Linked DNA regions of Homo sapiens. The protein of the gene in region 4 purifies or fractionates together with the protein of the main gene of each other region. This does not show direct contact. Each region holds a gene or a part of one and is shown on either strand. Other genes may lie near its edges.

Region 1 (3,500 bases), on a different chromosome or scaffold from region 4:
AAGAGGATCCAGGTCTGAGCCTTGAGCCATTCTAAGATTTAAGAGCTCAGGGAGAAAAGGAAAAACCACGAAAAAAGAAATTTAGAGAAATTGAGAAGAAAGGACCAATGAAGTAGAAGAAAAACCAGGAAAGGGTAGCTTCCAGGAAGATAGAAAGGAAATGATCAGCTATGTAGAGTTAATTGGTGGTACTAACAAGATCAGTGTCAGTGAGGTTTTATGGGCAAAAGGCTGAGTAGTGAGTAAGGGAGATTAAGGGAGAACAGGAGGAAAGGATTTGGAGATAACTAGAAGACAACTCAAAGAGTTCTATTGTAAAGGGAAGCAAAGAAATAAAATCTCACCAGCTGGAGGCAAGAGCAAAGTCAAGAGAAGGATTTTTTTAAGATGGAGGAGATTACAGCATTTGTATGCTAATGGGAGATGGTCCAGTAGATAGCAAAAAATTGAGATCTAGGAAAGGGTATTCTGTTTTTATTGTACTAGAGTTATTCACCATCAAGAGTTTTATATAAAACATTTAGAAATTTTTAAGACCAGCCCTTAGAAATGCAGTACTCAGAATCCTGTAGATATTTCTTGATTTGTCTACAAAGTAAATATAGCATTTCATCTCTTTCTACTACTAAAATGCCCCTTCTGCCTCCTTGAGGCAGCAGCATGGTGTTTGAGTTCATCAGTTTTTTTTTTTTTTTCATTTAACAATGCAATTTTGTTTCCTCATTCATACAGTATGTTACATTTAGTCACATGGATAATTATAATTATTACTTGATTTGCTACAGCTGTATTTTTTGTAGTCGACCAAATCTTTAAAACATATTTCAGCTCTTTTCTTACATTCAATTCTTAATTATATCTAATGGTGATTAGTAGCCTAAATAACCCACAATTTGAGTGCATATCACAATAAATGTTTTAGAAAGGGTTATGTCTTGAAAGCTTTAGAGCAATGCTGGGTATTTTTATTCATGACTAGTTTCTTCTGTCTTCTTCTGTCTTCTTTTATTCATGACTAGTTTCTTCTGTCTTCTAAAATAGAGAGGTTGAAAACCCATTCCACTTTCCACATTTATGTCTTTTAAATAGTAAATTTCAAATTATATTCATATCTCTTTCAAAAAGTAATTAAGATTTTTTTGGTGATTTTGCAGAATAATTTATAAGTTTTCTAAATTGTAAATAGAACTGTCTCATAAAGTAATAATTCCTCATTAGTTTTCAATTAGGAAATTGTAGGATTGCAGTTATCCTAACTGTATTTTTTGTTCTATAATCTTACAATTAAAAAAAATAAAATCTTACCTTACTGTTTTATCAGACGTCCTTGAAATATGCCTAAGTAGTTGATAATAGTCCATTGTAATATAAACTGTTTCTACTTTATATTTTTATAACAAAATTGTGACCAATTCTATAGAATGCTAGTAAAATAGTTTACTATTTCAAAAAAAAAAGTAAACCATTTTTAAAATAAAAATCTGTTTAGTTTAGATTATCAAATCTTAACTAATCTTGAAGAAATACCTTGATTTTATTCTTAATTTTTGTCTCTTAGAAAACATTAGTCCAGAAGAAGAGTATAAAATTGCCTGCCTTCTCATGGTGTTTGTGGCAGTTTCTTTGCCAACACTGGCCAGTAATGTGATGTCTCAGTACAGCCCTGCTATAGAAGGTAATAGTGGTTTAAAATTGTTTTGGCGATGAATAAATCATGGGTTTTGGTATTTTATAATAAAATATGAGTTAAGTTCTGCCACTAACTGGCAGTGGAACATGGGGTAGTCTGTTTCCCTTTTCCTAAACTGCAGTTTCCTGATATATGAAATGTGTGTAAGTAAGCTCATGTGTGCCTGAATGTGTGTAGAGGTCGGTGAGGGATTATCCAACTCATAGGATTATTTTAAGGATTGAATGGTAAAATGTTGTAAAGCAGCTAAGCACTTCCTTTTTATTTCCGAGCTACTATAAAACTGATGTGTGATTTCTTTTAGATGTTTTCAGAAGTGTTTGCCTGTTTAACATATACACGATCGTTTGTTACTCTCCTGTTAAACTAGTTTTAAAAACATCAGTGTTCATGAAAGTCAAAGGAGAGCAAGTCCGGTCATGTCCCAACTCTACTCTTAATTATGCCCCTATTTATGCAGATTGTGAAGTCATTAAAGATTTGCCTTCTATGTATTATTTGCTATTTTGGGGTCTACACAACCCTATTTGCATTTTCTCAGGGCATTGCAACAACATACATTGCTTGGCCAAAGCCATCAACCAGATTGCTGCAGCTTTGTTTACAATTCACAAAGGAAGCATTGAAGACCGTCTTAAAGAATTTCTGGCGGTATGTATAATCAAATAACAAAACTCATCACATTTTATAAAGAAAACTAAAATTCACAACCACAAAATGTAAGAATAAATTCTCTTTATTTTTACATTTTATTTAGTGTCCTCTAATGGCATTTTGTTTTCAAATTATTTTCTCAGGTATATGAATTTCAGTCTCCTTTTATTTTTATTTGTTTATTTTCTTTTTTGGAGGGAGAAACAGGTGAAGGTGGGGCATTAAAATCGAGGAGCCGTCCGTTATTTCCCTTAGACTCGGAAGTCTCTTTCCCAACTCTAGAGCTCTGCAATATGACCTTTTTTCCCCAAGCTGATGTTTGGACTGCCCTAGAAATTTTCCTAGGCTTGAAAGAGAAAAAAAGCAAAGGAAAATTGAGGCCAAGAGAGAAGCTATTCCCTCTAAAAAGACATATTTTACTTTTTTCCATTTCTTTGGAGAAAGACAATTAATGGTGAAAAATTCATCATTAAAAATACTACTCACTACCAAGAGAGAGGAGTGCTAAATGTAGCCTCATGAAACATGGTTTTTAGTTTCTCTATCAATGTAGTTCTTTCTTTTCTTTATTAATATAACCTTTTCCATATTTTATTTAAACGAAAGATATACCATGGCATACTGAACTCTAGAACATTTACTTCTTTTTCAGTTATAAATCCTGTCAGCTTTTTTAAAAAATAATTTTTAAATTACAAATGCAAATATAGTACTAACTTGAGGAGAAAATAACTTCTATTTCAAGGAAAACACTATTAAAAATTTTAAGTGTTTCTTTCCATTTGCAAATAATTCCTTCACTCAGGGTTTAATGTCTTAATCTTACAGTGTTTCTGTGAAGTCAAATCCAGTGTGAAACTGTCTTCTTCCTTGGGAACTAAGAAATATAGTCAGTATAGATAATGGGATGGGATAAGAGAAAATAATTTGAATCATTTTAAAAAGCAGACTTGTTCTGAAAAAATCAGTTTTAAAGACCAATAAGAATATTTGATTACATTTATTATGTTAGTGTCTCTTTGTGCCTTAATTACTCTCTAAATTACTGCTTGAATGTAGGCTATCTAAGCTCATCTTATTTAATTGCTCATTATTTTATATTTAGCACTGAATGATTGAAATGTGTTGGAAGTTGAAACATACCTAAAATAAGTAA
Region 2 (2,975 bases), on a different chromosome or scaffold from region 4:
GAAAGTTTTGAAGAACAGTGAGGCAGTGCAGATAAGAGAAAGCACAGTGGTCTGAGTCCTGAGTCTGGGGAGCTGGAGAAGCCCTTGGATCTTCTTACAAAAGGAAACTTGCAGTGTCTAGCCTCTAACCATCTGACATTGGGCATCACAACCTCTTCAGGGTGGTTTCCTTATTTGTCAAAAGAGGGGCACAGATGAGATGACTGCCTTCTAGCTCTGATAAGCTTAAGGCTTGGGGATTTGAGGACGGGCCAGGACTGTATTTGTTTTGTTTTGTTTTTTCAGACAGAGTCTCACTCTGTCACCCAGGCTGGAGTGCAGTGGTGTGATCTCAGCTCATTGCAACCTCTGCATCCCAGATTCAAGCAATTCTCCTGCCTCAGCCTCCTGAGTAGCTGGGACTACAGGTGCCTGCCACCACACCCGGCTAATTTTTGTATTTTTAGTAGAGACAGGGTTTCACCATATTGGTCAGGCTGGTCTCGAACTCCTGACCTCAGGTGATTCACCTGCCTCAGCCTCCCAAAGCGCTGGGATTACAGGTGTGAGCCACCACGCCTGGCCCTGTGCCAGGACTATAAAGAACATAGTTCAGGCTAAGGGATGAGCCTCTGGAGGAAGATGCCAGACACTTTAAAGAGCAAGAGAGGCCCATAGACAGCTGCCCAGCGGGAATGTCTACAAAGCAATGAGGGAAGGAAGAGGGATACACTGTAGGGTACTGTACCTTCCTTTTTGCCACCCCTCACCCACACCTCTGCCACACTCACCACACCCTCAGGGTCCACCAGTAGCAAATGCTTAGGCTGCCCACTCTGCAAGCCAGTGAGCACATACTGGCCAGGTGTGGTCGTGCTCTCCCGTACCAGGAAGTCCCCATTGAGCTGCAGCAGTGCCTCAGCCTCCCGCCGGCTCAGCTTCCCATGGAACCAGGGCTCCCCTCGGAGCTGCTCAGCCATGGACACCGACTGGGGAGGTGGAGGCACGCGAAGAGCATCTTCGAAGGGCTCTGGAAGTATAGAGGGAGGGTGAGGGGAAGTAGCAGGCACAACACACACCCAAGACCCAGACTTCAGGGAAGGGAAGTCAGGAAGGAAAGAGCAGATAGGCAGGAGAAGGGCCAGAACCAAGTAGAAAGGTGGGGATGCAGAGAGGAGAGAGACGAGCACTCACTCATGTCAAACAGGTCCCGGGGTGCACTGCCATTGATAGCAGGATTGGGGGGCCCAGCACCACCCACTGCTTGCCGGGCCTTGTCTAGGTTCTGGACGTTGACATAGGAGGGATCATCAAAAAGCTCTCTGCCTGCTGAGGAAAGGGAGGCTCTACAGTGATCCCAGCCCTGCCTCCAACACTCCCCAGCTCTGCCTATCTCGGCTCCCTTCATACCTGGACAGGGTGGTGGAGGTGGCATCTGTTTGCGGACTTCTGGATCTCCCCCAACAGGCTGTCCTACAGGCTGCAGGGATAAAAATAAGGTGAGACCAGAAGCCCTAACCAACCACTCCCACCCTAGCCCCAGCCCGCCTCCATCCAAGCAACTTACCAATGTAGCTCCCAAGTGGCTGGGGGTCTGGGCATTGGGTGCAGTGGGTCGAGCAGCCCCTGGAGCGGCTCCTTCCCGAAGCCTCATGTCTACCACCCCCCCCAAGGGGGGTTCCTTCCCCGGGAAGTCATTATAGTACTGATGGTCAGGTGGCTCTTCCTCCTCCTCATCCCATGCTGAGCCATCAAAGCCAGCCATCCTGAGGGACAGGACAGTGAAGCTGTGGCTGTAAATGTGTGGTGGGCAGGAGGAGGGAAGGACAGAATAGAACAGCAGCCATCTATTGGGTATTTACTATGGATTAAGCCTGAGGCTGAGTGTTTTATATACATAATCATTTCATTCTCCTGGCAACCCCGTAAGGTAGGTATTGTTTCCTTCCCCACTTTTACAGATGAGGAAAATGAGGGTCAGAGGTGAAAAGATCTGCCCAAGGTCTCACAACTAAAAGGCGGCCGAGCTCAGATTTAAATTCAGGTTTGACTTTAAAGCTCATCCCCTTGGCCAGGTGCAATGGCTCACGCCTATAATCCCAACACTTTCAGAGGCCAAGGAGGGAGGGTTGTTTGAGCCTAGGAGTTCAAGACCAGCCAGGACAACATAGCGAGACCTTATCTCTACCAGAATAAAAATACTACTACTCAGCCAGGTGTGGTGGCATGCACCTGTAGCCCCAGCTACTCAGGAGGCTAAGGTGGGAGGATCACTCAAGCCCAGGATATGGAGGCTACAGTGAGCTGTGATTGTACCACTGAACTCCAGCCTGGGCTACAGAGCAAGACTGTCTCAAATAAGTAATGCTCTTGCTCTTGATCTCTGTGCTATCTCCCAACAAGGAAGGGAAGCACCATGTAGGGGGGTGGGGGGCCGGGGGAGGCACTCCAGCTCCAGAATATTTTAACCTCTCCTAAATATTCAATCCCTACTGGCTCCACTGCTTATCCCTCAAGGCCTGAGGTGGGAAAGGTTGTAATCTCAGGGAAAAGAGATATCCTCCCAAACCCAAATTCTTGATGGCTTCTAGAGGCAGGAAAACACATAATGCCAAGCAGAGAAATGAGCAAGAAAGAGGGATGGGAGTAGAAAATCCCACCTAGCCAGAGAGAGATGTAACTTGGAGGCCCCGGACTACAACTCCACCATGAGCAAACAAGAAAAGCTGGTCCTGCGGCAAGCAGGGCCTCAAAAGTCTTTCCTCCTGGGCCACAGGAAACAGAAGAATAGCAGGAAGTGGGAAGCAGAGGCACACAGGTTATTCCCTCCCTGAACCTCTCAACTCAAGTGTAGGAAGAGCAGCCCTCCTTTCCTAATCCTAATCCAAGAGCTGCTCCACACTCTCCCCACCTGCTCACCTGTCATGAGGGGTGACCAGTTTGGGTGGGTTCCTGAGGTATTGTTTGAAGCGCAACTCGAAGGCCTGGCCAATGGT
Region 3 (3,500 bases), on a different chromosome or scaffold from region 4:
CTTCATCCCGGCAAGCAGAGGGCGGAATGGCATATACCTGCAAAGCAAGTAGAAAGCGAAATGCTATTTATTGAGTTGGCTCATGGGAACCTGTGGTCCCATGTGCTCAGTCCTATTTGCTGGCACTTTTTCGGTCGCCCTCCCCCGCCCCAATGTTAGGCACTTCCAAGGTTCCCCGTTATTCTGCTGTCACTTCCCTTGTCCTTTGCCAAGTGTGTCCAACCCCACGTTCTTGGTGCAGACTCGTATGTACAACCCTCCTGGCTAAATTGCTCACCCTGTGTTTCCAGTCCTGTGTTTCTGACCACCTCCTGGGTATCCTTTCTCTGCTGATCTGTGCCGAGAGGCAGAGTAAGACCAGAGTTCTCCCCCGGTCTTTTTGGTTATCACACCAGCTGTGTGATGCTGAATGAGCTGCATAGGCGTCTGAAACACAGTCCCCTTGTCTGTAAAGTAGGGATTACTGTGCCTCCTGTGCAGGCATACCCCATAGGGTAACAGAGTGAGTCAAACGAGTTCACTCAAACATACACACTGAGGAAACTGTCAAACCCTCTACAGGCCAGGCGCGGCTCAGCCTGTAATCTCAGCACTTTGGGAGGCCAAGGTAGTAGGATCATTTAAGCCCATATGTTCAAAACAAGCCTGGGCAACATAGGGAGACACCGTCTCTACAAAAAATAAAATTTATCCAGTCATGGTGGCGTGCACCTGTGGTCCCAGCTACTTGGGAGCCTGAGGTGGGAGGATTGCTTGAGCCTGGGAAGTAAAGACTGCAATGAGCTGTGGTTGCGCCACTGCACTCCAGCCTGGGTGACAGAGCGAGACCCTGTCTCAAACAAAATGTAACAAAACAAAACAAACCCTCTACAAATATATATTAGTACTTGCCAAACTGAACTAATTATCTTCCCTGCCAAAGGGTTATCCTTATTGGCCACCTAGTGTTTTTTAGTTGGGGCTTCTCAATATGAAATCCCTAGAGCTATCTTTAATTAGTGCCTTTCCTTTTTTGCTTCCTTCCTTTACTCTCACCAAGACTACATTTTCCCCTTTTGGGTTTGCCTTTCTTGTTTTATTCGAGTGAACTACTTACCCACCCTCCCAACCCTGCACCCCCCGACACACAGACACACACACACACTCCTTTTTGCTGCTTTGTAGTCACTCACTCACCCCTTTTGTAGGCGGGATGTCATACACCCCTTGAGGTTTTATCTCTCCCACTGGAACTGAAAACACAGGGCCTTTTGCTGATGAGGGAGGGATGTCGTATACCTGAAGAGAAACCCGTGAGTTACCCAGAATGGAAATGTCTTATACTTGGTCATTTTTTATGCTCCTAAGCACTTAATTATGGATTTATTTACCAGGTTATGTACAAGCTTGATCTTTGGCAGTGCTCCATGTTATAACAGATTTATTGCCTTTTTTTTTAATACATTTTATGGTTTTTAACTTACATTTAATATAAAAATGATTTTGGCCAGGCACGGTGGCTCACGCCTGTAATCCCAGCACTTTGGGAGGCTGAGGTGGGCAGATCACAAGGTCAAGAAATCGAGACCATCCTGGCCAACATGGTAAAACCCCATCTCTACTAAAAATACAAAAATTAGCTGGGTGTGGTGGTGCACACCTGTAGTCCCAGCTACTTGGGAGGCTGAGACAGGAGAATCGCCTGAACCCGGGAGGCAGAGGTTGCAGTGAGCTGAGATCGTGCCACTGCACTCCCAGCCTGGTGACAGAACAAGACTCTGTCTCAAAAAAAAAAAAAAAAAAAAAAAAAAAGATCTTATGTGAAATATCTACGCTGTCTGTACTTTAAAGTGTAGTTTAAATTTTCTACTTTCCAGCTGGGGGCCGTGGCTCACACCTGTAATCCCAGCACTTTGGAAGGCCGAGGTGGGCAGACCACTTGCAGTTAGGAGTTCAAAACCAGCCTGGCCACCATGGCAAAAGCCTGTCCCTACAAAATACAAAAATTAGTCAGGTATGGTGGTGTGTGTGCCTGTAGTCCCAGCTACTTGGGAAGCTGAGGCAGGGGCAGGAGAGTTGCTTGAGCCTGGGAGGTGGAGGTTGCAGTGAGCTGAGATAGAGCCACTGCACTCCAGCCTGGGCAACAAAGTGAGATTCTGTCTTAAAAAAAAAAAAAAGAAAAAAGAAAAATCTACTTTCTGAAGCAAAATTGTAGAAGAACATAAGCTCTCTTGGGTGAAATACTAGGATTTCCTGATAAAGCAAATCCAGAAAACATAATTTAAATAGCATTGGCTAAAGTGGCTACTGGGTAGACAACCTAAACAAAGCTTCATATGACATATATTAATGCATAATTTGTGAACTCCCTTTTCTCTACAGCCCTGAAGGAATGCTACCCTTAGAAGCGCTTCTCCTCTTGTGACCATGTTCTGGTACGCACCCCTTGAGTGGTATGAGAAGGAGGGATATCATAGACGTCCTTTTGGTATCTGGATGGGTACTCGTATACGTAGCCATGGCCTGTCCTCACGGGGGTTATCACCTGTGGGAGAGAAGGCACAGAGGTGTAAATTTCCAAGCCTGAGTCCTTGAATCTCCTTGCCTCCTAACTAAGCACTCATCCCTCAACTCTCCCTCATAAAAAGATAGAAAGAAACCAAAGAAAGAAGACATAACAGGAAGGAGACAAGTAGACACCACGTTAGTAAACTTTTTTTTTTTTTTTTGAAATGGAGTTTTGCTCTTGCTCCCCAGGCTGGAGTACAGTGGCACAATCTCAGCTTACAGCAACCTCTGCCTCCCGGGTTCAAGTGATTTTCCTGCCTCAGCCTCCTGAGTAGTTGAGATTACAGGTGCACGCCACCATGCCCAGCTAATTTTTTGTATTTTTAGTAGAGACAGGGTTTCATCATGTTGGCTGGTCTCAAACTCCTGACCTCAGGTGATCCACCCACCTCAGCCCCCAAAAGTGCAGGGATTACAGGTGTGAGCCACTGCATCTGGCCCAGGTTAGTAAACTTTTAAATCCCTCTTGAATCCCAATGAGAAAAAAAATCCCTAAAATATCTCTATCACCCTTAATTGTGATCATCTCAAAGTTCATCAGATAGAGTTGATGCACTGCAAGCATATTTCTGAAATATACTTTAAGGGATACTTGTGTGTAACTTATGAAAGTCCTAGAGGAGCATTTTGCATCTAAAGTACCGCATACTGAAATTTGCTTTAAGGCTCTGAAACAATTTGTAAAATGAATAATGCAAATAGAGTTTAGCCACTTAAAATTCCTCTCATGCCTTCCTCAGTATGCCTCTTCATTGGACATTATTATGATGATTATAACTGTAATTCCACAGGTCACCAGAGTACTTTTACAAAGCCAATGCTCAAACTGTGCTGTCCTTAGAAACCTCTGGGAGCTTTCATTCTAACGTATCAAACAAACAAAATACTGAGTCAGGGAGGCACCAGGAACAGAATTCAGGTCTCCTGACCTCTGGTCTCTAATCATTTTCCCA
Region 4 (3,500 bases):
ATCTCAGCTCACTGCAACCTCCGCCTCCCAGACTCAAGCGATTCTCCTACCTCAGCCTCCTGAGTAGCTGGGACTAGTAGCTGGAACTACAGGCGCCCGCCACCATGCCCGGCTAGTTTTTTCTATTTTAGTAGTGACGGGGTTTCACCGTGTTGCCCAGGTTGGTTTTGAACTCCTGAGCTCAGGCTCAGGCAATCTGCCTGCCTCAGCCTCCCAATGTTCTAGGGTTACAGGCATGAGCTACTGTGCCTGGCCCAGTTAGTGATTTTTAAATTGTAGTTCCTTAAATGAGTATTTTGGATTTCACTCCACAATGTTCTTCAACTGTAAGATCTACTTGAGGTTATTTGATTTGCTGGTTTGCAAGAACTCGTCTACACGTTGTCTTTATCACAAAGAAATTCTGGAGCGTTTGAGCCCTGTTCAAAAAAAAAAGGCAAGAAGAAACTTCAGGAACAAATAACCTATTTGACCCTGTAATGAATAATATTCACACATTTTCTAATTTAAGAGCTGTTGATTGATTTCCAACTTTTAGAATCTGTTTCAGACAAAACATGGAAGTTTAGTAACAGTTTTTTCTATTCTGTAATAATAATTGCCACAAGGTTAAAAAAAAAAATTTACAGAAGAACATATTTGAGGGTGGTCGTGGGGGCAAGAAAGCTGGAAGGACGGGTGGGGTGTGTTAATAGCCTTGTCTTGTGAAGTAAGTCCTCAGAGACGCTGTCCTAGTTGGAAGAACAGGCAGTGAAGGTGTGCGTCTGTTACGGAGAATAGGACTCCAGTGATCTAGCTGGTACTTAGAGAGGTGGGGGTGATCACCAAAAAAACAGCTCTGCCTCTGGGAGCGGAGAGGACTGGGATAGAAAGTATTTGTCTTTCATTTTAAGCCCTTCTGTACGATTTGACTTTTCTTTTTTTTTTTTTTTTTTTTTTTGAGATGGAGTCTCACTCTGTCACCCAGGCTGGAGTACAGTGGCACGATCTTGGCTCACTGCAACCTCCGCCTCCCAGGTTCAAGCAATTCTCCTGCCTCAGCCTCCCAAGTAGCTGGGACTACAGGCACCTGCCACCATGCCCGGCTGATTTTTGTATTTGTAGTAAAGACAGGATTTCACTGTGTTGGTCAGGTTGGTCTTGAACTCCTGACCTCATGATCCACCCCCGGCTTTTTTTTTTGACACGGAGTTTCTCGTTACCCAGGCTGGAGTGCAGTGGCGCAATCTCTGCTCACTGAGACCTCCACCTCCTGGGTTCAAGCGATTCTCCTGCCTCAGCCTCCTGAGTAGCTGGGACTACAGGTGTGCGTCACCATGCCCGGCTAATTTTTGTATGTCTAATGGAGACAGGGTTTCACCATGTTGGTCAAGTTGGTCTCAAACTCCTGAACTCAGGTGATCCACCCACCTTGGCCTCCCAAAGTGCTGGGATTACGGGCGTGAGCCACCATGCCCGGCTAAAGCAAGAAATTTTCATTGCATATTTTAAGCAAAGGCAAATGCATATGTGGATAGACTGTTTTAATTTGACTAAAGTCATATTGAATCCATGAATTTTAGAAGCTCAAACTATTGGGGAACAATAATTACCACCTTGGAGTGAAAATACTTAATTTCCACAAGATTTAGTAAAGGAAGAGTTTTTTAAAAACCACCTTAATGATAATAGTATGTACAGATGTTAAGAAATGAAATAGGAATGTGTAATGTTGGAAACACAAATATTTTTGCTTCTGAGAATAAAACTAATTTTTTCTCCCAATTTTCTCTTCCTTTTTCTTTTTTCTGTTCCCCCCTTTCTCTTCCAGAAGCCCTTCAGCGGCCAGTAGCATCTGACTTTGAGCCTCAGGGTCTGAGTGAAGCCGCTCGTTGGAACTCCAAGGAAAACCTTCTCGCTGGACCCAGTGAAAATGACCCCAACCTTTTCGTTGCACTGTATGATTTTGTGGCCAGTGGAGATAACACTCTAAGCATAACTAAAGGTAAAAGGGTTGTGGGCAGCTAGTGGTGGTTGCAGGAGATAGAAATCTGGGAATTGCGGTTTGACCTACCACCCTTTGCTCGTTAAAGGAGCAGCTTTGAAATCTGGACTGCAGGGATATCCAAAACAACAACTGCATGTTTCTAAGGGAGTCGACTCTCCTTAGAGGAGTTCTTGTACAATAGCCCTGGGCAAAAACAGAACTTGCCCTATTTTTTATACTGAAAAGGACAGCTGGACAAAATACTGAACGCAATTTTTCCCCTAAGAAAAAGCATTATTTCCCTAAAATGTCTTATATTAGGAACAGAGCACTTGAATAAACATAATTGATTTATAAAAACTGAGGCTATACACTTACCTATCTGTTCAGTACAAACAGGAAGCTTCAAATGTAAACGTGAATTCTCATACACTTATAAATGCATATCTTTATGTGGACTTGTTAAAATGAAATTGGTATTTAGGAATTTGGAGATTTTTAGTAGTTACACAAGAATCAATGAAAAAGAACGAAGCTGGTTTCCAAAGCTGATATGTCTGATTTGGTTCCTTTCTTCTCAGGTGAAAAGCTCCGGGTCTTAGGCTATAATCACAATGGGGAATGGTGTGAAGCCCAAACCAAAAATGGCCAAGGCTGGGTCCCAAGCAACTACATCACGCCAGTCAACAGTCTGGAGAAACACTCCTGGTACCATGGGCCTGTGTCCCGCAATGCCGCTGAGTATCTGCTGAGCAGCGGGATCAATGGCAGCTTCTTGGTGCGTGAGAGTGAGAGCAGTCCTGGCCAGAGGTCCATCTCGCTGAGATACGAAGGGAGGGTGTACCATTACAGGATCAACACTGCTTCTGATGGCAAGGTAGGGGACCCTTGGCAGGGGGCGCTGATGGGCCCAGGGCAGGGGAACCAGAGGTCCTGCTGTCGGATTGATAAATTATTGCAAGAAAGCTCAACCAAGAAGATGTTTAAAGAATCTTTCAGGTGGGAGTCATTCCATTAGCCTTATGAAGACCCTTTATTGAGGATCCGTTCTGTGATATTACAAGTTCCTGGGACTGGTATGATTCTCTTATTGTCTTGCTAGAGTTTTGTTGTTAGCAAGTTACTTAAAATAGGAGGAATATCTGTTGGGTTTTGGACACATTTTTTACAATAAGATTCTTCCTTTAAAAAAAATATTTTATAATGATAGAAATCATCCCCAACGAGAAAAATTCAAATAATAGATAACCTTTCTTAGAGCGAAAGACCACTTTACTATCCCCTCCCCCACAGACGCCTGGCACGTGGGCTTCTTCCTGCGGATGAACACATTCATGGAGAGGTGTGTGGACATACGTGCATACACGCATGCAGTTTTCAGTGAAAACCGGGATCAAACCCACAGCTTACCAAACCCAAAGTGTGGTGTTGTAAGGGAGGTGGCCTATATGATTTTGTGGTCTTCATATAAATAATCCTTAAGAGTCCATAAAGAGAAGGGAGGAGTTAACATTGACTGAGGTATTGCTATAAT
Region 5 (3,500 bases), on a different chromosome or scaffold from region 4:
TTGTGAAGAGAATGAGTTTAAGGAGATGGCAGCATCATGGAGACATGCTGGAAGGCATTGTGATGGTCCCAGAATGGTGGCTGGTTAGAGATGGCACCGGAGCTGGAGAAACAGTCCCACATAGGACTTGCTGACAGATTGGATGTGGGAATTACAGAAAAAAAGGAGTCATTAACATCTTTCCTATTTTAGGCTTGAATAACTATAGGGAAAGTGATTTCCTATTACAGGGAACACTGGGAGGGACTGAAGGGCCATCAGGAATCTGTTTTAGCCACATTTCATATGAATGCCTATTAACCCTCCAAGCAGAGATGAAATATAAGCAGTTGACTGCCTCTAGAGCACAGCAGAGAAGCCAGGACTGAAGAGAGATTCATCAGATAAAGACGATACCATCCACCACAATACTGTCCCCCCACCGCCCACTAACTGTTCTTCATGACTACTCTACTGGATCCCAGCTCCTGAAGCATGAGAATCCACTGGCTGGGATGAGGACCTGAAAGATAACTACAAGAGGGACAGCCACCTACCACGTTCTACTTCCAGCCGCCGCTGCCTCTCCCGCTCCTGATCTGCCTGCACGGCCTTCATGTGCTGTAACACCTGCAAAGGAAAAGGAGGAAAGTAGTGCTCTTCATAGTCATGTTTGCTCAGGGAAGTCTCAAAAAACAGACTATTTTCAGGCTTCCAGATTATCATGGTAGCAATGTAGAACTAATAAGAGTTAGGCTGAATGTGGTGGCTCACGCCTGTAACCCCAACACTCTGGGAAGCCGAGATAGAAGGACTGCTTGAGCCCAGGAGTTCAAGACAAGCCTCGGCAACATAATGAGACCCTGTCTCTACAGAAAAATGTAAAAAATTGGCCAGGCACAGCGGCAGATGCCTGTAGTCTCAGCTACTTAGGAGGCCAAGGAGAGAGGATTACTTGAACCCAGAAGGTCAAGGCTGCAGTGAGCTGTGGTCACGCCATGGCACTCCAGTCTGGGTGAAGACTGAGACCCTATCTCAAAACAACAACCACCACCACCACCACCACCAAACTAATAGAGTTAATTGTATCTTTGTATCCTAAAATTACTGTGCCAACCTTAGTTGGAGAAGAGTGCTATGAGCCAAGGTCATTAAAACTGTCAGAAAAAAGTGAAACACAATGCCAACTCGAATCTGTAAAAAGTTCTGCCATTTACACTCACTGTCACATGCATGATTCCATATGACCCTCAGCAACAACTTGGGAACAGCATTTCCTCCAACACGCTTTCCTGACTGCCCCTCCTGTGGCTACCTTAAGTCCCCCTCCATCTACTCCTGTGGAATTCAACACAGGACATTGTAGCTACTTGCTACCTATCTGGCTTGGTCATAAGATGGCAGATTCCTTAATGGCAGGAACCGCTGTCTGGTCTGTAGGTATCACACAGGGGCGTGGCTAGCACAGAGTTTAGCTAATTGCAGGCATTCAATACATACATGAGGAATGGCTAATTCCCATTTCAAAAGGAAGAAAACCAAGACTCATAGGGTGATTTGTCCACTGCTAATGGCCAGAAAGCAGCACAGCTAAGACCTGAGCACAGTCCCCTGCATTCCTAGGGCAGAGCTTGTCGCACACACTTTCACCACATGCAGAGGAGAGCTCCGAGAGAAGCCTACACACAGCACACTTGTACTCGGCAATCTGAGCTCCCCAGATCCACATAAACTCGCTCATGGATGACCTCTAACCACACAATCACAAAGATTCTCGCTATGGTGGGTGGAGGAGGTAAAGACCTTTTCTGTTTGTATTTTTTTAAAGGTGGTATTCTTTGGCTGTAGGGGATAGAGTGTAAGCTTGGAGCCCAACGCAATCCTGACTACCCCTTATTGTATAACCTTGGCAAGTGACTTAACCTTTCTGAGCCGATTTTCTGATCGAGAAAACAGAGATAAGATATACTTCTATGGAGTGTTGTGAAGAATAAATAATATAACTTGTATTGGCTGCCTTGTATAATCTCTGGCATTATATGTGCTCAGTAAGTACTGCTGCTTATTTTCTTTACCATGTGAGTAAGAAAAAAGAAGAAAACCCAAACTATTAGCAAAAGGGTCTTGTTTTACTACTGCACTTAACAATTACATTTGAATATGCATGCGCACGAGACAGACATGTATATTCATATGTAATTCTTATTTCTAGAAAACTCCAGACACGCATACCTCCAGACAAGCACACACCCATCATAAGAAGTATTCAGGAGCAGACCAGCAAAAGGATCTCCTTTCAAAAGCCTGGTTTGGGCCAGGCGCGGTGGCTCACACCTGTAATCCCACACTTTGGGAGGCCAAGGTGGGCAGATCACTGGAGCTCAGGAGTTCAAGACCAGCCTGACCGATATGGTGAAACTCCCATCTCTACTAAAAAATACAAAAATTAGCTGGGTGTGGTGGTGTGCGCCTGTAATCCCAGCTACTCAGGAGGCTGAGGCAGGAGAATCTCTTGAACCCGGGAGGTGGAGGTTGCAGTGAGCTGAGATTGCGCCACTGCACTCCAGCCTGGACGATAGAGCGTGACTCTGTCTCAAAAAAAAAAAAAAAAAAAGAAAAAGGAAAGAAATCAGGTCTGGACCCAGAGTTAGGGCTCAGGGCACTCAGGCAGTAGAGAAGTTATGGGTCCCGTTGCCATGATTGCAGGGAGAGTGTGGAAAGTAAGAGTCCAGGGTGTTGGCTGAGGAAAAGGAGTGAGGGGAGTGGATCACCTGAGGTCAGGAGTTCAAGACAAGCCTGGCCAACATGGTGAAACCCCATCTCTACTAAAAATGCAAAAATTAGCCAGTCATGGTGGCATGCCCCTGTAATCCCAGCTACTTGGGAAGCTGAGGTGGGAGAACTGCTTGAACCCGGGAGGCGCAGGTTGCAGTGAACTGAGAGTGCGCCACTGCCCTCCAGCTTGGGTGACAGAGCAAGACCCCATGTCAAAAAAAAAAAAATTAATTATCTGAAAACACAGGCAATGCAGAAATGGGACAGATTGTCATAGTCTGGAGTCTGTGAGCTCCTGGAGGGTAAATTTTTGTCTAGCTACTCTAGTTCATAGCATACAGTAAGCACTTGATGAATACATTGAACAAATCATTTTTAAAAATTGCTTTAATATGTACCAAGCAGATTAAGACTAACCCATATACCCACCAGGGTTTAGGTCTTACCTGGTCAGAGCTAGTAAGACCTAAACTAATTCCTGCAGACAGACGACCTGATTCTGACTGGCCCAGGCCATTTCCCTACAAAGCCTAAAGGTGTGCTGCAGCTCTAGGACAGCTGTGCTAGGGACCATGGCTTTAGTTACCACATCCACTATGCTGCCTGGAGCTTTGTCTGAAAGACATATGCAAATACAAAAGGCCTTTGTACTCAATCAAAATTATTTTTGTATGTCAAAAACTGGAATATCATCAATTTCCTATGGTTCCACATATTACCTACTGAATGAATGGATGGATGGATGA
Region 6 (2,441 bases), on a different chromosome or scaffold from region 4:
TCCGTCTCCACTCCCTACTGTCTCACCCCTCGGTGTGTCCTCCCCAACTTTGGAGACCAAGTCAGGGCCACTCTCGTCCTCACCCACCCTCTACCAGCAGAGCGGAGTTCTTTATACCGGGACCTCCTCCAGGAGAACCCCGGAGCTCCTTCTAGCTTGGCCTTCTTTGGATGCGGTATCACATGAGGCCTGTCCCTAACAGTGCCCTCAAAGTGAAGGTCCTCAAGGAGGATCGGCACAGCCCCCTTCCCTGGCTCTGCAGCGGCTGGGTCACCCCTTACGCTGGTGATCAGGAAAGCCCGCTGCCCCACCCCTCGGGCCCACCCGTACAGAGGCTGGTGGTCGCCGGGATAATTAATGACCACCGCCAATTCATCCCTCACGTGTCTCCTCTCTTCCCTAGCCCGTCTGGCACAGAGGGTGGACCTGTTAGAGGAGTGGAGGGGCTGCCTGGGGAATGGGACAGAGGGATTCTCTTTCCCTAATTTTTTTGGTTGTCCTTTTTCTTTGAAAAACTTGTAATTTATTGAAGTTTTACTCAATCCAAATAAAACTTAATTTATTGAAGACATCACGCCGCAACCCTTACGACTGCCCAGGAGGCTGCTTGCAAGACCCTGTCCCGGGCTGAGACCTGCGAGGAACCTCCCTCCCCCACCCTGCCGCCGTGCATCCCCAGAGCAGGGCAGCACAGACCAGGAGACAGTGAGAACTAAGCAAACTGGCACTTTATGGCTGAGATCCTGCCCCACCCCAACCAACCCCAATAATATTAAGGTGCTCTCCCTCCCCAGACCCACACAGAACAGTTTAAATAAACCCCAGCCCGGTCCTCGGGCTATTCCTTCATTTCCGGACGGACACCCGCCCCCACCCCCAGCGGGGGTGGGGAGGTCTTAGCGGAGCTCCTCCGCTGTGGTTCAGGCCCGGTGGAAGGCCGCAGAAACTGGTGAAAGTGGGGGCCCAGACGTACCCAAATGGACCCCCACAGGCACCCCTGGGGCTGGGAGGCGGGGTCCAGTAAAACAGGACAGCACCAGAGTAACCAGGGTCCTCGGTAACCATGGCAACTGACCTTCCGTCCTGAGCCTAAAAGGCGAGGGGCAGGATGCCCTAATTAGGGCATTGCAAATGATTGGGCAGCGGGGAATGCAGATCCCCAATAAATAGGCACCCCAATAAATAGGCAGAGAGATACTGCCCTGACCCTCATAACTTTTCAACCCTGGGGCCATAGCTGGGCCTTGGTAGCAGGGAGGGGCTCTGAGTTCACAGCTTCGTGGTGCCTCCGCTATCACTTGCTGAGCTGCAGGGTGTCCAGAAGGAGGCGCTTGTGAGCCGGGTCCTGCACCCCAGCCTCCTCCAAGTCCTCCTCGGTGATGTCACTGTGGAGTAAAACAGGCTGGGAAGTGAGATGGGCAAGGGGATCCTGAGGGCCCCAGCTCCGCCCCCGGGGCCAGCCCCTCCCCCACCTGAGAAACTCCAGGTCGTCCCAGCCATTATGCACCAGGCCCTCCTCATAGCGCTCCAAGCCGATGGCCCGCAGCCAGGCACTCATGCCTGCCTCGCCCAGCCCGCTGGCCCGCCCGCCCTGCAGGCACGGAGCCTAAGGAAACAGGGCATGTCAGGGGGAGCTGAGTGCCCCCCATAGAAACACCTGCAGTCACATTCTGCTGCATGCTCTGGGGAAAAGGAAGGGAAGGGCTGGGCTGATACATGTGTCTCCCAACTTCCCAGTGATCAGTTCAGGGTAGCAGGGACACCATGAGTGCTGAATGGTGGAGTGAAAGGGTACCAGTCTGTGGGCAAGCACACTCAGGCACACACAGACAGCCACCCTGCTCCACACACCTCCTCTGCCAGGTCTTCCTGGATGCTCTCCCGGATGCGGGGTGGAGGGAAGCTGAGGGGCCGGCCATAGTCCGAGGGCAGTCCCCGGGGGGGCTGCAGCTCCAGGGGGCCTGGGAGGAGCGCTGAGCGTGCAGGCCCAGCAGGGGCATAGTCCACCTCGCTCAGCGTCTTGGCCATCTGCAGCACCGAGCAGGACCGGTCATCCCCACTGGCCACTTCCCCCAGGAAAGTGCTGGCTGGTGAGGGGCCTGGGGGCAGTGGAGGCCTTGGATGGGCCTTGGGAGGTGGTGGGCCACGGGCCTCAGCCCCACCACGGCCCCGGACCACTGGCCCTGGTAAAGGATCCAGGCTGGGGGGCAGGAAGATGGCTGAGTCCGGCAGTGGTGGAGGTGGAAAGTCTGGAGGGGGCAGTGTGCCTCCAGACTCCTCATCTGAAGAACTCCCCTCTCCCACACGAGGGTGCCGGTGGTGCCCAAGCTGTGGAGCAGGCACTGTAATGGCCACTTTGTTCTTGGTGGCAGATGGGACAGGGGCCCTGGCAGGCGAGGGTGGCTCCGGGGGCAGCAGCTGGTGCGGGACCCCTTCAAGGA
Region 7 (3,500 bases), on a different chromosome or scaffold from region 4:
CCCTTACTGAACACCTAACACTGAGAAGGCTCTGGGCTAAGTGTTGATGCATGTAGGGAAAAGTTACGGAACACTGGGCAGTGAATGAGCACAGAAATAATGTTCCTTCTGCTTAATATGATACATTTACTGCATACTTATTGTCTCAGTTTCTGTGCTCAGTGCCTTAGCTACTTCATATCATGTACTCCTTACAACAATTGTATGAGGAAGGTATTAATATTAATCCATATTACACATGGTGGAGGAGACTCAGCCAGAAGTGGGCTTTGGGAATTCAACCAAGATTGTGTGCTAGGAAATGGCAGGAGAGCTTCCGCACCAGGCTGACCGGCCCCAAGGTCTTGGAGCAGCCTTCGGATGCCCTGTGCTCTCCTTCCGTTTGCCTCACTCTTCCTGCTGCTGCTGCTGCTGCTGCTCTAGTATCCTCTGCTCCCTCATTACCCAGGAGGCAGTGGGGGCAAGGAATGGAAGGTAAGTGATGGGTGGGGTGCTCTTTCTCCACTTTGCTGCCCTAAAATGGCCGTGCCTTCAGGTCATGGATTATATTCATGCCATTCAGATTCTTTCACATTTTATCTTTAGCCTCAAAGATTTCCTGATTGCTCAAAACTATTTATATGACAGTCAATTTGCTCAACTCTTCACTGATTTTTCCAAAACTAATTTTGAGATTAGTCATAATTATGTTGCCCCCATCTGACTGAGGATCTTATCTTGTGACTGACAATGCTTTTGATATATTGTGAAAGCTTTACCCTTTAAGGCAGCAATTCACAGTCTGGCCCATAGACCTTGCTGTCTCCTGAGACCCTTTCAAGGCGTCTTTGGGGTTAAAATCATTTTCATTCTAATTCTAAGATGTTATTTGCCTTTTCACTGCATTGACATTTGCATTGATGGTTAAAAAATAACAGCAGATGAAACTTTTGGCCATTGTCTACTCACAGTAAAACAAAATGTATATTTCACCCAATAATATCCTTGATGAGGCAGTAAAAATTATTAATTTCTTAAAATTGTGATTCTTGAGTATGTCTTTTTAACATTCTCTGTGACAGATTGGGAAAAAATACATGAAGCACTTTTGCTCCATATCAAATTGTAATAATTGTCTTGAAAAAAAAGTTTTTAAAAAAATATTTAAGAATTCAGTTTAAAAATTAAAGTTATTTTAAAATTATTTTTTAAAATCACATAATGCAAAAAATTCTTAATGAACAAAATATCAGTACTTTAAAGACAAGATTCAATTAACACTTTCATGACTATGCTACACTTGGCCCACCTGGACCTGGTGTTGCAGGAATTTTCCTAAAGTTCAGCTAAAGATGGGGTCCTTGTCCATCCCACAGCCATGAAAATTCAGGCTCACAGATGGTTTGAAGGGTAAGTAAAGCAGGGCTTTATTGGGTGAAAAGGAAAAAAGAGGGGAAACAGGGACTCTCAGCGAGGCCAGAGTTCATCTAGAGCACTTCCGGACCGCGCCCAAATCCCAGGTTCCACACAGGAAGAGGAGGGGCCAGGCTCTTCCCTGCTGCAAGTGGCACAAACTTCCGCAGCTCCACCCCAGTGCACAGGCCAGTTGGAGTTTTTCTGGGAACCCCCTCCCCTCTGGCTGTCTCACTGGTTCTAATAAAGCTTTATTTACAGAGATAGTCAACCTGTGAGCTGTAGTTTGCTGCTTTGATTTTGAGTTGATATTTTTAACATATTGCCTTAAAATGTTACTTTGATTACTGAGTTTTTTGGCACCCTCTTAAATTTTACCTCCAAGGCAAGTGTGTCACTTGCCTTAGCCTAATCTCAGCCCTGCATTGTCCTAAGAATTTTAGATGTATTAATATTACTAGAGAATAAATCAAGAAATGACAGTGTTCAAATGCATGAAAGCATAATTTTGAAAACTGCTCAAGTATGAATAATTCCATCTGTTCATATGTGTGAAAATTTAACTCAACCCTGTGGAGATGGAGTTTTCTACCTTAGGAGGGTCCTGTAGGATGGGTTCCCAGCAGACTTGATGCCCAGTCTGTAGGCAAGAAGCAGAAATAAACCATGTGGAGGGCCAGCCCCACCTCAAGAAGTGTTTCTAACCTGGAAACCCAAGGAGCATAGGGGACGGTGCACAGCATTAGAGTGGTAAAGAAAATGGTTCAATTCCAAATTTTCTGCCAATACCCAACTTGACCCATCAATGAACCTAAACTGAATCAAAAGCTGCAGAGTACATTCCTATTACCCAAACTAACCTCTCCCACATAAGCTAATTCCCTCTTGGGTTTCCTCCCATGGATTGTGTTTAACAATAAGGATAGAGTAATTGGCAGAGCTAAGGCCAATTACACAGGAGAGACTAGGCGTTAGCCCCCCACTCCTGCCCCCACATAATGGATAATGTAGACATTCCCCAAGTTACACAGTCATTCCATTCAGGAGGCTGTTGTGCAGCTCAGATTTTAATTTGAATCCAAAATGTTTGAATGCATGTGCTGTATATTGCAATAATACCACATATGTAACTGCAGGCATTATGCAGAAATAACACAGATGTTTGCAGCAAGTAGAGACAGTGTGAGACTTGCTGCAATCACTGCTACCTGCTCTGTTCTTCCAGTAATACTAAGCTGAGTAATGGCTCCCAAAGACATTAGGTTGTCCTCCCTGGAACCTATAAATATTATCATATTTGGGAAAAGGGTCTTTGTAGATGAGAGTAAGGATTTTGAGATGGGGAGATAATTCTGGATTATCTGTGGGCCTTAACTGCAATCACATGCATCCTTATGAAAGTGGCAGAGGGCGATTTTGCTTACACAGAAGAGAAGGCACTGTGAAGATGAAACAGAAAGAAATTTGAAAATGCTGATCTTAAAGATTTTAGTGATGAAGCCACAGCCAAGGAATGCCGGCAGCCACCAGAAGCTGCAAGATACAAGAAACAGATGCTTCCTTAAAGCCTCTGCGGGGAGTGCAGTTCTGCTGACATCTTGATTTTAGCACAGTGATTCTCATCTCAGACTCTGGCTTCCAGAACTGTGAGAGAATAAATTACTGTTGTTTTGAGATACCAAGTTTGTGGTAATTTGTTACAGCAGCCATAGGAAACTAATGTACTAAGTCTGTAAAATCTTAAAATGGAACCCTTTGCATAAGGCTGAGAATGAGTCAGTCTGAATTAGGGGAGCATCTGTAAATCTGTAATGATGCAGGACTTTTTGTTTGTTTGTTTGTTTGTTTGTTTTTTGTTTTGTTTTTTGAGACGGAGTCTCGCTCTGTTGCCCAGGCTCTGGAGTGCAGTGGCGCGATCCCAGCTCACGATGCAGGGTATTTCTTAAGGAGATGTGTGCATGTCAGTGTGCTTTGTCCCTAAACCTTACAGCTCCTTATAATTTACTCATTGAGTCACCAGATATTTACTAAGCACTTCCTCTGTATAGTTCTGCTAGGTGTGGATATTCAAAGACATAGCGCAGTGCTCAGAATTGAGCAGAAATCCA

Evidence for each region.
Region 1: the proteins of ABL1 (region 4) and NCKAP1 purify together in Homo sapiens (affinity purification with mass spectrometry; 2 studies listed by BioGRID and IntAct, with this or other methods). This does not show direct contact.
Region 2: the proteins of ABL1 (region 4) and SHC1 purify together in Homo sapiens (affinity purification with western blotting; 5 studies listed by BioGRID, with this or other methods). This does not show direct contact.
Region 3: the proteins of ABL1 (region 4) and NEDD9 purify together in Homo sapiens (affinity purification with western blotting; 2 studies listed by BioGRID). This does not show direct contact.
Region 5: the proteins of ABL1 (region 4) and LRRC59 purify together in Homo sapiens (affinity purification with mass spectrometry; one large-scale study listed by BioGRID and IntAct). This does not show direct contact.
Region 6: the proteins of ABL1 (region 4) and INPPL1 purify together in Homo sapiens (affinity purification with western blotting; 2 studies listed by BioGRID, with this or other methods). This does not show direct contact.
Region 7: the proteins of ABL1 (region 4) and STON2 purify together in Homo sapiens (affinity purification with mass spectrometry, with the first as the bait; one large-scale study listed by BioGRID). This does not show direct contact.

What each region holds. Positions count from the first base shown.
Region 1 is NC_000002.12:182,926,958-182,930,457, reverse strand, and holds part of NCKAP1 (nck-associated protein 1), read left to right. Parts: intron 1-1,558; coding exon 1,559-1,675; intron 1,676-2,231; coding exon 2,232-2,341; intron 2,342-3,500. UniProt on the Homo sapiens protein: Part of the WAVE complex that regulates lamellipodia formation. The WAVE complex regulates actin filament reorganization via its interaction with the Arp2/3 complex. Actin remodeling activity is regulated by RAC1.
Region 2 is NC_000001.11:154,964,773-154,967,747, forward strand, and holds part of SHC1 (SHC-transforming protein 1), read right to left. Parts: coding exon 2,899-2,975; intron 1,773-2,898; coding exon of another isoform or gene 1,746-1,772; coding exon 1,547-1,745; intron 1,460-1,546; coding exon 1,390-1,459; intron 1,309-1,389; coding exon 1,174-1,308; intron 1,010-1,173; coding exon 771-1,009; coding exon of another isoform or gene 597-770; exon of another isoform or gene 514-596; intron 1-513. UniProt on the Homo sapiens protein: Signaling adapter that couples activated growth factor receptors to signaling pathways. Participates in a signaling cascade initiated by activated KIT and KITLG/SCF.
Region 3 is NC_000006.12:11,191,169-11,194,668, forward strand, and holds part of NEDD9 (enhancer of filamentation 1), read right to left. Parts: intron 2,525-3,500; coding exon 2,423-2,524; intron 1,279-2,422; coding exon 1,177-1,278; intron 38-1,176; coding exon 1-37. UniProt on the Homo sapiens protein: Scaffolding protein which plays a central coordinating role for tyrosine-kinase-based signaling related to cell adhesion. As a focal adhesion protein, plays a role in embryonic fibroblast migration.
Region 4 is NC_000009.12:130,852,254-130,855,753, forward strand, and holds part of ABL1 (tyrosine-protein kinase ABL1), read left to right. Parts: intron 1-1,810; coding exon 1,811-1,984; intron 1,985-2,547; coding exon 2,548-2,843; intron 2,844-3,500. UniProt on the Homo sapiens protein: Non-receptor tyrosine-protein kinase that plays a role in many key processes linked to cell growth and survival such as cytoskeleton remodeling in response to extracellular stimuli, cell motility and adhesion, receptor endocytosis, autophagy, DNA damage response and apoptosis.
Region 5 is NC_000017.11:50,387,524-50,391,023, forward strand, and holds part of LRRC59 (leucine-rich repeat-containing protein 59), read right to left. Parts: intron 610-3,500; coding exon 537-609; intron 1-536.
Region 6 is NC_000011.10:72,237,207-72,239,647, reverse strand, and holds the end of INPPL1 (phosphatidylinositol 3,4,5-trisphosphate 5-phosphatase 2), read right to left. Parts: coding exon 1,852-2,441; intron 1,607-1,851; coding exon 1,473-1,606; intron 1,386-1,472; coding exon 1,295-1,385; 3' UTR 501-1,294; downstream 1-500. UniProt on the Homo sapiens protein: Phosphatidylinositol (PtdIns) phosphatase that specifically hydrolyzes the 5-phosphate of phosphatidylinositol-3,4,5-trisphosphate (PtdIns(3,4,5)P3) to produce PtdIns(3,4)P2, thereby negatively regulating the PI3K (phosphoinositide 3-kinase) pathways.
Region 7 is NC_000014.9:81,390,325-81,393,824, reverse strand, and holds part of STON2 (stonin-2), read left to right. Parts: intron 1-3,500. UniProt on the Homo sapiens protein: Adapter protein involved in endocytic machinery. Involved in the synaptic vesicle recycling. May facilitate clathrin-coated vesicle uncoating.